2 linked regions of the Homo sapiens genome follow. The protein of the gene in region 1 purifies or fractionates together with the protein of each later gene. This does not show direct contact. Each region holds a gene or a part of one and is shown in the gene's direction. Other genes may lie near its edges.

Region 1 (7,027 bases):
CATATAATGACTTAATTTTTTTCTCCATCATATTAGACTCTATAGATGTGTCTTTCTTAGAACAATCCTGCACCCACATAAAAGCTGCATTTCCAATTTGAGATTGTCAAGAAAAGAATCACAAGATCTATAAATTTGGAGAGGAAACTTTATTTCTTAGAAAGGGTTGCAGTCTGCAGGGTGGCCATTCTGACAGGCTGGAAAGTATAGCCTTCAGCAGAGACCAAAAGCAGGCACTCTGAAGGAGGAAAGGATGAGACAGGAATTTATGCTGAATGCGTTGGCCAAGTATACTTATTTAACAGGTTATAGGAGGAGCTCTGAATATAAGAGGGGTCCTAATGCTTGTATACCGAGTAAATGTACAACCCCTGGTCGCTTTGGGGTGGAGACTTAACATTTAAAATACCTGACAATTAGATCCTGTATGTTACAAGATGAAATAGGGACAGGGACATGACAACTGAATGCACTGCCTCTGGAAGCTGGTAGTACCAGTCCATGGTCAGTGATCTCTTATCAGGAGATGTTACTGGGATCAGTCTCTTGTCCAATCAAAGCTGTAGTTACTGTTTGTGGAACAGAGTGTGGGAAGAGGGAAGCTGGGGTCAATCTGTATCTAGCTGTTGGTGAGCTGTAATTGTTTTAATATTGTTTATCACAAGGCCAGTGCTTGTTAAGCTGCTAGAGAAAAAAAAATATCCTGTGGCAATTAGAATGTCATTTACTCTTTAAGTGTAGGGTGTATGACTTAACCCTTGCCCAGGTGGTCTTAGGTCTTGTTTACAATTTGATATCTTATTGCCACAGTCTGTTCTGTCTTGCCTGGGCGCCTAGGGGCTTTATTTTTATTTTATAAGATAAAGGGGTATTTGGCAAAACTGCAGGTGTATTCATATCTGCTGTTATAGCTGCAGTGACAGCTTCATGAATTTCCTTTTCTTTTTTTTACAATGGTCCTATGGTATAGTCATTTATCTTGAAGTGGTGGGCAACTGCAACTGCAGGCCTCAGTCAACAGTACCTATCAAGCAATTCAGCTTTTTTCTTTTTTTTTTTTTTTTTTTTTTTTTGAGATGGAGTCTCCCTCTATCGCCAAGGCTGAAGTGCAGTGGTGCAATCTCGGCTCACTGCAACCTCCACCTCCCGGGTTCAATGGATTCTCCTGCCTCAGCCTCCTGAGTAGCTGCAACTATAGGCATTTGCCACCATGCCCAGCTAATTTTTTTGTATTTTTAGTAGAGATGGGGTTTCACCGTGTTAGGCAGGATGGTCTCAATCTCGTGACCTCGCAGTCCACCCGCCTCGGGCTCCCAAAGTGCTGGGATTACAGGTGTGAGCCACTGCGCCTGGCCAGTTCAGCTTTTTCTTGTACTGTCATGACTTTTCTGTGCTGCTTTGGAGCACTCCCAACATCACTAGTGGCACTTTATGTGGGACCCACGTTGGGTGGGTCCTATGGTCCCAAAGCTTACAATATTGCACTAAGATTAAAAATAGGCAAGAACTGCGAGAAATCACTTTCTACTGTGATAGACAGTTTATTGGAGAGTCAAAACTGCTTATGGGAGATAATCAGCATCACATGTGATCAGCATCACATGGCATTCTAAGTGGATACTTGCAACACCTGAGCTCACCACAAGAGCAATAGGTGGTGGCTGTGAAGTTGTCGTACAGTATGCACTACAGTTAATTTTATGGAGTTATGATTTAATACTGCATCTTTGCATTTGTTTCCATTTCTCTTGACTACAAATGGCATCATATATGGCTTGTGTTTGTGTGCGTAAGTTTTAATTTTAACTTTTTATAATAGATTTGTGTATATTTTACGGTAGTAAATAAGATAGACTAGTACCTACATACAGTTTATGCATTCATGACGTAGCTTTTTCTTAATTTTTTTGACATTTCTACGATACTTAGCTCCTCTCTGGGTTTTTTCACATCTCCAAAATATCTTCCAGTATATGTGTTGAAAAAAATTTGTGTGTAACTGGACCTGTGCAGTTCAAACCTATTATTCAAAAGTCAGCTGTATTACATCTTGTTTATCCAGTCACAGTAGATGGACTTTTGGGTTGTTTTCAGTTTGTGGCTATGAGAATAATGTTGCTACTGAATTACTTATATCTTTTGTGTTTTCTTACAAACTGAATTACAGACTACTTGAAATTAAGAGATGTACTATCTCTTGCTTTTGCTGTAGACAGGCTAGTTGGAAATCCACGTTTAACAGTTTATATTAATTATAATAAAGCTGTTAGATGGGCTGTTGTGTACCTATAAAAGTTATTTTTGATGAGTTGCCAATAACCTGGCAAAATACAGTAAGTATAATGTGAGCCAGATAGAAAACTAAAAACAATTGGTTCCAGGTATGTTTAATACAGCAGATGGGAAATGATGTTGCCTCTGTGTCTTGAAGCCTCCATTCCTTTCCAACTATTGCCCCATTACTTTGGTTCTTTGTGCAGCAAAACTACTCCCATCTGTTCTTGTTGTCTTTATTTCCTCATCTGTCATGCTCTGTTTTAAATAATTTTAATCAAAGTTAAACATACACATAGTTTTAAAAAGCCAAATATTGGCCGGGCGTGATGGCTCACACCTGTAATCCCAGCACTTTGGGAGGCCGAGGCGGGCGGATCACAATGTCAGGAGATCGAGACCATCCTGGCTAACACGGTGAAACCCCGTCTCTACTAAAAATACAAAAAAATTAGTCGGGCGTGGTGGTGGGCACCTGTAGTCCCAGTTACTTGGGAGGCTGAGGCAGGAGAATGGCGAGAATCCGAGAGGCGGAGCTTGCAGTGAGCCGAGATTGCGCCACTGCACTCCAGCCTGGGGGACAGAGCAAGACTCCGTCTCAAAAAAAAAAAAAAAAAAAAAAGCCAAAAATTTCTACTGCCTACCTCCATTTCACCCTTTTCAGGGGAACCAATTTCAACTCTTTTAGCTTATCTTAAAAAATTATTTGTCTCTGTATTTCCAGATATTTTGTTCATATACAGCCTCTTATTTTTCAGATTCACTATTGACTTTCTACCATCAAAGATGAAGATTTAGCTGTCTTTCACCCCCTTACTTCCACTGCACACACTCAGCCTTTCTGTCACTCCGATTTATTCTTCTCTGTCCTCCTGATGGTCCCCTTGTGGTTTTTGTTAGATTCGTGTTCAGTATTACCTGAAAACAGAAATCAGTGCTCAGTGTACTTATAGCTGAGCCAGGTGAAATACTGTGACTGCCTTATCTTTCTTTTGCAGCATTGTTTTCACTTGAGGAAGTAACTCTTATGTGTCTATGTCCTTTCTTCATTTTCGTCGTACTAATTCAGTAAGAAGCTATACGTTGTCTGTATCTCCTCTTGATGTATTCGAATGCATCTAATATTTGAGAAATCTCTCCTGGAGATGTTCTGTTCCAAAAACGCCCCCATGCTTTCTGCGTGCATTCTGGCTGCACAGCCATCATCCTGGGTTCCCTGTCCCCTGCCTCTTGGAGTCTCTTTCCCAGAGTTCTGCTTCTTGATATTCCTGCTGCTGATTTAGGCATCAGTTGACTTCGGTCTGCACAGTCAGTTCCATCTCCTCCATCTGCTTTCCACCTTTTTGGACTTTGCTACTGTTATTACTCTCTTCTTCCTTTTGGGCTTACATCTTTCCTGTCATTTTAGTGGAGTTTGAGGAAGGAGCATTTGTAAATGTTTGTTTTGTTCATCTGCAGGTGTCTGGAGGAAGAGCATTACAGAGGAAGGGGAAAGCACAAAGATCTTGAGTTGAGGGCACATCTGGCAGTGAGCGAGGAGGCTTGACCAAGGATGAAAGGGAGAGAGCGGAGAGTGACAGATGAGTCAAAAATAATAGGGCCTCACTGAGGTCATCATAAGGACTTTGGCTTTTACTCGGAGTGAATAGGAAGTCATTGGATGATTGTGAGCAGAGGAAGGGAGGTGGGATGTGAGGGGGCGAAGGGCAGTGAAGGTGAGTAGGATCCATAGATGGGAGGTCCTGGGGTAGGGGTGAAGGATTATTTGTGTTGATATGAGTGGAATGACAGAAAGTGGTGAAGGGAGAGTTGGATGTTTGAAATCGAAATTATGGGGGGGTTGCAGTTTTTGGTAATGACCAAGTCCAGGGTGTGACCATGGATGGAAGAGGCTGGAGTAGGGTGGAAAACAAGACCCCATGTTGGCATAAAGGATATCAAGGACCTGAGAGGCTGGCATGTTGGGATTATCATCTTCATGGGTATTGACATGATCGAGCATGGTGATGGGGAATAGCAAGAGAAAGCAAGCCAAGAGCTAACATCTTCACAGGTGATCTGTAGGGGCAGCTGAGGACCGCAGCCAGGCAGGGTGGTGGGTGATGTGGCCTCAGAGCAGATCCAAAGCCAAAGGGTTTTTAGGGAGGCAAGAGGGAGAGCATGTGGTCTGGATGTGGCATGAAGACACCTGCTCCTCCCCCAGGCCCAGAGGTACCTGGTTTGTGGAGGAAGAACTGGCCACCATTTGAGATCTGGCCTTAGTTGAAGCCAGAAGGTGAAGGGAATATTAACAGGGGTTGAAGATATAGAAGCTTTAGCTGATTTGTACAGGGCACAGTGAAAACAGTTTGGAAGATGGACTCAAAAAGGCAAAATTGTATCTTGTCAGTTTTGTCATTCAGTAAAGAATGCCCATTAAAAGGGTCTAAATGATCCTCAGAGCCCTGAAGAAATTTAGATAATCTTTAGGAAACTTTGCAGTTGAAAACCAATTATGTTGAAATTGAGTACAGTATTGCATTTATGGGTATTCAGTAACCAGCTCTGCCAGTGTGTCGTCTTGGGCAGGCTTTTTGATTTCTTATAAACTTCTCTCCTCATCCGTAAAACAGGAAGGTCATGTGAGGATTAATGAGGGCATGCATAGAAAGCCCTGGCACATAAAGCACTCATAGGATGGGAGCCATCATTAACCAAGAATCTTCACAAATTTTTCTTTTTCAAACAATTCTTTGTCTTTTCTAATAATTTTTTATTGGGATACAATTCATATACCATAAAATTCACCCTTTTAAAAAGTGGTTTTTAGTATATTCATGGAGTTGTGCAGCCATAACCACTGCCCTCATTAAAGAATCTGACTCAAATATCATGATTTTCCAGCATTTTTGGAGTACAGGACTTAGGTAAGGAAATGCTTTTTTGTCTACAATGTCTTTTTTTTTTTTTTTTTTTTTTTTAAGAGAGAGGGTTTTGGTCTGTCACTCAGGTTGGCATGTTGCACTCTACAGGCACGTGCTACTACACCCAGCTAACTGTTGAATTTTTTTGTAGAGATGGCGTCTCATTATGCTGTCCAGGCTTGTCTCAGACTCCTGGCCACAAATGATCTACCTGCCTTGGCCTTCCAAAGTGCTGGGATTACAGGTGTGAGTCATTGCATCCCAGCCACTAATTTGTCTCATTTTATTTCTTTCAGGAAAGTTCACATCCTTGGCTCCTTCCAAAATATCAAGATGGCAAGAACTGCCATTTGCAACCTAATCTTGGGTAATAGCAGTTTCTTTCTTTGGTGTTTTCTCTGGGAGGGATAGGAAGTTAATTGAGGAAGTCAAAACCACATTTGCAAAGCAATTTAGGGTAATATTAAAGATCGCAAGTAGAAACCCTTGGGAGTTGGCAAAGGTGGGCCTAGAGAAGGAAGTAGAATTTTTTTTTTTTTTTTTTTTTTCTGAGCCAGAGTCTCGCTGTGTCGCCTAGGTTGGAGTGCAGTGGTGCGATCTCGGCTCACTGCAACCTCTGCCTCCCAAGTTCAAGCGATTCTCCTGCCTCAGACTCATGAGTAGCTGAGACTAAAGACGCCTGCCACCTTGCCTGGCTAATTTTTGCATTTTTAGTAGAGACGGGGTTTCACCATATCGGCCAGGCTGGTCTCGAACTCCTGACCTTGTGATCCGTCCACCTCAGCCTCCCAAAGTGCTGGGATTACAGGCGTGAGCCACCACGCCCAGCCAGAAGTAGAAATACTTTTGCTTAGATTCCATTTGTCTGCAAGAGAAGAGAAGGTGTTTATTGGGTAATATTGCTTAAATCTTTGCTGCCTTCTTGATAAGGTGCAGAGAAAAACCATTCCAGAATAGCAGGGAACATCACATTTTAGGTTTAACAAAGGAAGAGCTGCTGAACAGCTTCAGGCAATTTAATTGATCCACTTAACCCATTTTCTTGATCCTGCAGCAAAGTCAGTACTTTCTGATAAGAGTTGCAGGATCTTAGCGGCTTGCTCAGAAAATTGGGATTTTCTGGTTCTCAGGCCTCAGTGATTGGCTTCTTTTTGAAATATTTTAACAACTCAGTGCCTTTCGCTCTTAGAAGTTTAAAATATTTTTTGGAGAATATTTGGGTATTATTTCTGTTAAGGTTTTTTTTTTTTTTTTTTTTTTGTAATTTCCAATTAAAATGTCTCTGTTCTTTTTAGGGTTCTAGACCCTTTTTCACGTACAGTCTGCCCTCTGTCTGCAAGGTCCACATCTGCGGATCGAACCAATGGCAGATCAAATACTCAGAAAAAAAATATATAAAAATAATGGCAAATTAAAAATAATACAAATTTTAAAACACAATACAGTACTATTTACATAGCATTTGCATTGTATTAGGTATTATAAGTAATCTAGAGATGATTTAAAGTATATGGGAGGATGTGGGTAGTTAATGTGCATATTTTTTATGTAAGAGACTTGAGCATCCAAGGATTGTGGTGTCTGTGGGAGTCCTGAAACCAGTCTTCCTTAGACACTGAGGGACAACTGTAGGCGCTATAAATGTGAGTTTATTTGTGTATATACTTTTTTTTCCCCTTTGCAGGAAATCCTCCTTCCAAGGTTTATGGCAATATTCGAGCTGTGGCTAGCAGATCAGCAGATCGATTCTGATTTCAAGTCAGAGACTTTTTATCTTGCCTTTGGACTCTGGTGAAAAATACTTTACAGTGGTCGGTCACAAGAAACCAGCTGAACAATTTCAGTCATTT
Region 2 (7,027 bases), on another chromosome or scaffold:
ACGTACATGTGTCCAAAGGCCAGATCTAAGGAGCTACAATGGCTTCATGCCAAAGCTAGACAGCAGGATCAACTTGGGAATGGAGGCAACTTGAGTCAATGAAAAAGACAGTTTAGAAGCATGTCACTGCCAGGTTTCCCTCCAGACTGTTTTGAGACAGGTCTCTGTCATACAGGCTGGAGTGCAGTGGTGCAACCTCGGCTCACTGCAAGCTCCACCTCCCAGGTTCAAGCAATCCTCCTGCCTCAGCCTGCAAGTAGCTGGGATTACAGGCATATGCCACCACGCCCAGCTAATTTTTGTATTTTTAGTAGAGACAGGGTTTTGCCATGTTGGTCAGGCTGGTCTCAAACTCCTGGCTTCAAGTGAATCACCCATTTCGGCCTCCCAGAGTGCTGGGATTACAGGTGTGAGCCACTGTGCCAAGCCAGCCCCTCCAGACTCTTGAGACTAGTGTTATTTGCTCAGATGTTGCCAGTGAAAGTGTGAGCTACATCCACTGGATAAAGCAGCTACTTCATCCCTTGACTCAGCCACAGCAGATTATGAAATACTGCTTTAAGATATGGAGTAGAAATTCTTGAGTCAAGATGAAAATCCTGGATAGGGTTTTTACAAGCAGTGAAGCATAAATTACAATGAAGTTACATTGAGAAGCCACCTGTTAAAGTGGCTTCCTTTTTTAAAATTTGGAACTTGGGGCAATCTTCCCAAGCAGGGTTTACTGCACGAGGAACTTAAGCCACAGTCCCAGTTATACAGTGGATCATTGGCAAAGCTGGGAATAGGACCCAGGACGTCTGCTTCCAATATGCTACTTTTTTTTTTTTTTTGAGACGTCTTGCCCTGTTGCCCAGGCTAGTATGCAGTGGCACAGTCACAGCTTCCTGCAGCCTTGACCTTCTGGCTCCAGCAATCCTCCCAGCTTAGCCTCCCAAGTAGGTGGGACTACAGATCCACACCGCCATGCCTGGAAATTTTTTGTTGTTGTTGGAGGGGTGGAGGTGGTAGAGATGAGTTCTCACTATGTTGTTCAGGCTGGTCTCGAACTCCTGGGCTCAAGCTATCCTGCCCCCTTGGCCTCCCAAAGTGCTGGCATACAGGCGTGAGCCACCATATCCAACATCTCACATGCTACTTTTTTTTTTTTTTTTTTTTTGAGACGGAGTCTCGCTCTGTCACCTAGGCTGGAGTGCAGTGGCACAATCTCGGCTCACTGCAACCTCTGCCTCCCTGGTTCAAGTGATTCTCCTGCCTCAGCCTCCTGAGTAGCTGGACTACAGGCACATGCCACCATGCCCAGCTAATTTTTTGTATTTTTAGTAGAGATGGGGTTTCACCGTGTTAGCCAGGATGGTCTCGATCTCCTGACCTCATGATCTGCCCGCCTCGGCCTCCCAAAGTGCTGGGATTACAGGTGTGAGCCACCGCACCTGGCCACATGCTACTTTTAATTACCAAACTCCGTTGCCTGCTATGATTAGTGTACTGTCTAGGAGATTCAATGTACAGAATCTTCTTTTCCCCGTTTGTCCTTTTTATAATGTCTTATGTGGTACCTAGCACTTGGTGGGTGCTCAACAAATGCTTACCGACCAGACAACGTACAAACCTCATTTTCTGACAGTTTTCATTCTTTTTTCCCCCAGATTCTGGCAGCCAGGAGGTGCTGTCTGAATTGAGAGTACTATCTCAGAAATTGAAGGAAAACCATCAGTCCAGGAAGCAAAAAGCAAGTTCAGAGGGGACTATTCCCCAGGTCCAGAGAGAGGAACCTGCCCCAGAAGAAGAGGAGCCCCTGTTGCTACAGAGACCAGAGAGAGTACAGACGCTGGAAGAGCTAGAAGAGCTGGGAAAAGAAGAATGTTTTCAAAATAAGGAGCTTCCCAGACCTGTGTTAGAAGGGCAGCAGTCAGAGAGGACCCCAAATAATCGCCCTGATGCCCCTAAGGAGAAGAAAAAGAAGGAGCAAATGATCGACCTACAGAACCTCCTAACCACACAATCTCCCTCCGTGAAGTCTTTGGCAGTTCCCACAATAGAGGAGCTGGTGAGCAGAGCCAGGGTGGTGGGCCATTGTTCAGAAAGTGTCGTTCTTGCGCAAGGAGTAATGAAGCTTTGTTTTGCTGGGGGCACATTTCAGTAGTTTAGAGGTCCAGAATAGTATAGGGCCAGGCTAGTCCCAGTGACGTTTTAATAGATGCAGATATATGGGTGCTGCCAAGACCCCTATTTCCGAAAGCCTGATCCACAAAAACTCCTCTGGGGTGACTCTAAAACTGCTCTCAGAGGTAAGAGGGAGTAACTCAGAGTTCTGACCAGATCCCAGGCAGGACAACTTGAAGGTGAGTCATTGAACTGTTGCGAAAGTTTTATTCAGTGGGATCTCAGATGGTCTAAGACTCCCCAGTTAATCTGAAACTTAAAGTGAAGCGTCCTGGCACCTGTCTTTTCAGGGATATAAGCTGGAGGAAGCCTACAGTCTGGCCACTTAGAGCTCCTGCTGCTAACACGGGCCATTCCTTCCTCCACCCTGCAGCTTCCTTACTGAAAAGTTTAAAATTGTGTCATATGATAATGAGCTAGGGATATTTACCCTAGAGGGAAGAAAATTTGAGCATGATTGGCTGTGCACTGGTTTGTATCGCAAGACCATCATTGTTCAGCACTTCCCCCTAGGGGGCGCTAAAATGTCACGACCCGAAATTCAAGCGTTCTCGCCATGAACCACAGCTCATAAGCCAAGCTGTAGCTCTCGCTTGTTTCTTCCCAGGAAGATGAAGAGGAGAGAAACCATAGGCAGATGATAAAGGAAGCTTTTGCTGGGGATGATGTCATCAGAGATTTCTTGAAAGAGAAGAGGGAAGCTGTGGAGGCGAGTAAGCCAAAGGACGTGGACCTGACACTACCTGGCTGGGGCGAGTGGGGTGGTGTGGGCCTAAAGCCCAGTGCCAAGAAAAGACGCCGGTAAGAATGCCGAAGAAAGTCTGTCAAAAGGGCACCGGGTTCTCCCCTCGCCCTTCGGTGTCCTCCCTACCCTTTTGACTAAGTCCTTAATGCTCCTAGTCAGATGTCCTGTTGTTTTGCTTTCCAGGTTTCTCATTAAAGCCCCTGAGGGTCCTCCAAGAAAAGATAAGAATTTGCCAAATGTGATTATCAATGAGAAGCGCAACATCCACGCAGCTGCTCATCAGGTGAGAGCTTAGAGAGCTCTTTAGCTGCCTGCTTGTTACTGCCTGGCTCTCTTGCTTGAGAGGAGTATTCTAGTGATCTGTAGTCAAGAGAGACGTGTGATCTTGACCGCAGAATCAAATCTGTTGTTTTCACTGAATGGCTGTTAGATTTATCATTTCAGATAGACTACGCTGTTTTAATTACTGGCCAGGAAAAAAGTTTAGAGTCAAGGTAATGCTCAAACAGAGGCTATAAGGTTTAAGCTGTAGCTTAAGAAAAATGAAGACAAACCGGTACTTGTTCAGGAGAATGAGAAGATTGTAAGTTGTGTCACATGATAATGAGCTAGGGATGTTTACAAGAGAAGAAAATTTGAGCGTGATTACGGTGTTCAAGTATATCGAAGGTTATTGTATGAAGTCACATAAAGTAGAAGTTAGAGGACATACAGAATTCAAGGCTGCTCTGGGAGTATGAGAATGTGTAAAGGGGACTCAAGAACGAGATTGGACTAGATGACCTTTATGTTCCCTTCAATTCTGAGATCTGTCCCCAGCCAGTATATTGAAATGAGTTACATTTTTCCCTCGGAAGGAATAAAGAATTAATGGCTACAGAACAGAGGTAAGAAGATACACATTTCAATAACATTCTTTTTGATCTTATTTTGTGAACCAATCACTGCAGAAACTGAATCATAACTACTGCAGTCCCAATTAAACCTATATAACTAGAAAATAGGCAGTTACACGATAAGGGAAGGGGGGAAAGGGTGCTTCAGTGGGCCAGGATTCCAGGTGATGGGTAGAGTATGGAGCTCAATAAAGACCACCCTTCCCTTCCAGGGGTCTGTTTGTTTTTTTAATACAGTCATGGCAAACTGACAAATAGTTTTCTAGGAATCTCCCCTGATTTTCATCTTTTTAATAAGTTACTGCAGGTTCCAACATGCAGTAGAATAAAGTGCTTCAAGGTGCCTAGGGGGGACTTCTGAGACTGAATACTTTGTCCAGGTGTTCTCTTTTTCTGTTGCCCTGGTTGACAAGCACAGATGTAGCCGTCAACCCAAATAAGACATTCCCTTAACTTAAAGAGAATCTGTTTCCTTTGCTACTACCAGGACCACCTGATAGTACTTAGCTTCTCTTGAGTATTCCACTGAATGTTTCCAGAGACTACTGATTTTTGTTTGTTTGTTTTGTTTTCAGATGGAGTCTCACTCTGTCACCCAGGCTGGAATGCAGTGGCACGATCCCAGCTCACTGCAACCTCCACCTCCCAAGTTCAAGCTATTCTCGTGTCTCAGCCTCCTGAGTAGCTGGGATTACAGGCATGCGCCACCACACCCAGCTTATTTTTGTATTATTAGCAGAGACAGGGTTTCACCATGTTGGCCAGGCTGGTCTTGAACTCCTGACCTCAAGTGATCTGCCTGCCTCGGTCTCCCAAAGTGCTGGGATTACAGGTGTGAGCCACCGTACCCTGCCAAAGACTACTGATTTTTACATCCCCATTTTCTGCTTACGTGTTTTCCTCCTTTGGCCACTGGGGAAGTGTTGAAAGATTATTTAATGTCTGAAGGTAGCAATGTGGTGGAGGAGTACCAGGCAAGGAAACAGGAGCTTTGGGTTCTGTTCTCCAATGCTGCTCCTCATTTACTTAGGTCCATCACTTCCCCCCTCTAAGCCAAATCTTCAGGCCAAGGGAGATGACCATTGTCAATATCTAGGGCCTTCCAGCTCTACATTCTGTGGTGCCAAAAGAAGATGAAGCTAAGTGGGCCGGGCATGGTGGTTCACACCTGTAATCCCAGCACTTTGGGAGGCCAAGGCGGGTGGATCACAAGGTCAGGAGATCGAGACCATCCTAACACAGTGAAACCCCATCTCTACTAAAAAAAAAAATACAAAAAAAAATTAGCCAGGCATGGTGGCAGGCCCCTGTAGTCCCAGCTACTAGGGAGGCTGAGGCAGGAGAATGGTGTGAACCTGGGAGGCGGAGCTTGCAGTGAGCCGAGATCACGCCACTGCACTCCAGCCTGGGAGACAGAGCGAGACTCCATCTCAAAAAAAAAAAAAAAAAAAAAAAAAAGATGAAACTAAGTGTAACGGCCTGGTAGAGTTCAGGATTCGGGTTCCTTAAAACATCAATCCTGGCCAGGCGCGGTGGCTCACGCCTGTAATCCCAGCACTTTGGGAGGCTGAGGCGGGTGGATCACGAGGTCAGGAGATCAAGACATCCTGGCTAACACGGTGAAACCCCGTCTCTACTAAAAATACAAAAAATTAGCCGGGCGTGGTGGTGGGCACCTGTAGTCCCAGCTACTCGGGAGGCTGAGGCAGGAGAATGGCGTGAACCCAGGAGGCAGAGCTTGCAGTGAGCGGAGATCGTGCCACTGCACTCCAGCCTGGGCGACAGAGCGAGACTCCGTCTCAAAAAACAAAAAAAAAATATCAATCCTAAGAGAGGGAAGGAGGAGACTGAAAGCATAAAGAGGGTAGAAAAGTCATAAAATCCACAGGGATACACAATGGTCTGGATTCTTGCAGTCACAGTGTTACATAGGAAAGCTCACTCTGGGACAACAGCCCTGGAGCTCCTGTAGCTAGATAGGGACAGTGTCACTTGTAATCCCAGCTACTTGGTAGGCAGAGGTTGCAGTGAGCAGAGATCACCCCACTGCACTCCAGCCTGGGCCACAGAGTGAGACTCTGTCTCAAAAAAAAGAAAAACAAAGATGGGCAGTGTCAGGGTGGTTTTTCAGACCCTGAATTGTTGAATAGATGGGGGATCCAGAGCCAACTCAGGCCCCCCTACTCCCAAATGTCATCAAACAGATTGAATTCCTAAGGGCAGATGGGAGCAATGGGACGCCTTGACCTCTCAGTCTCTTCACTTGCAGTCATCATGTGGAACCGTGGCCTGTACCAAAACAGTACCTGATGAAAGCTGCCATTACAGTATACAACTGCACCCCAGGCCTGCCTCATACCAAATCATTCTCCTTCCTTTCCAGGTACGAGTGCTTCCATATCCATTTACCCACCATTGGCAATTTGAAAGGACCATCCAGACCCCCATAGGATCCACATGGAACACCCAGAGGGCTTTCCAAAAGCTGACTACTCCCAAGGTCGTCACCAAGCCAGGCCATATCATTAACCCCATAAAAGCAGAAGACGTGGGCTACCGGTCTTCCTCAAGGTCGGACCTGTCTGTCATACAGAGGAATCCAAAACGAATCACCACACGTCACAAAAAACAGCTGAAGAAATGCTCTGTAGATTGAGTTGCTGGAGGAGTGACAGCCAGGAGCCCTGACTTCACTTCCTTTGGTCCAGTTTTACTCTGATACAGGGTGGATTCCAAAACTGGCTCAGTACATTGCATGTAGTTAAGCCACATTTTAAAAATAAAGGCATTTTTTAATCTATTTACCTGGAGTATATGTTGCATTGTCCCCCAGTGGGATCATTTCGTTCAAGTCAGACACCTTTGGACTCTACAGCATTGCATTTCTCGAGTTGCACTTGTCAGGGCCACCTCCTTTTCTTACCAAGGATTATGTAGTTGGTCCTAAATCGAAATGGAGAAAGTTAACTGTAGTCTGTAACCTTAAATATATCACATCAGATATGATCCACCATTAATAACTGCCAACTTGAAGAGACAGGGTTAATAATGATAAAATATTGTATATTTTAACCTCTGAACCTAGAAAGAGGATGTACAAACTGCAATTGGATTCTGCCCTAGACTGATCCTAAGACCAGGACGGTGCCGAAGCTGGGTTCTGTCCCCACAAGTCTAGCCACAGCCATTTTTTTCACATGTGTGAGCTTCCCAGCTTGTA

The links.
Region 2: the proteins of PNO1 (region 1) and UTP14A purify together in Homo sapiens (affinity purification with mass spectrometry; 3 studies listed by BioGRID and IntAct, with this or other methods). This does not show direct contact.

What each region holds. Positions count from the first base shown.
Region 1 is NC_000002.12:68,167,874-68,174,900, forward strand, and holds part of PNO1 (RNA-binding protein PNO1), read left to right. Parts: intron 1-5,473; coding exon 5,474-5,544; intron 5,545-6,861; coding exon 6,862-6,929; 3' UTR 6,930-7,027. UniProt on the Homo sapiens protein: Part of the small subunit (SSU) processome, first precursor of the small eukaryotic ribosomal subunit.
Region 2 is NC_000023.11:129,923,146-129,930,172, forward strand, and holds the end of UTP14A (U3 small nucleolar RNA-associated protein 14 homolog A), read left to right. Parts: intron 1-1,649; coding exon 1,650-2,050; intron 2,051-2,773; coding exon 2,774-2,967; intron 2,968-3,094; coding exon 3,095-3,194; intron 3,195-6,190; coding exon 6,191-6,463; 3' UTR 6,464-6,607; downstream 6,608-7,027. UniProt on the Homo sapiens protein: May be required for ribosome biogenesis.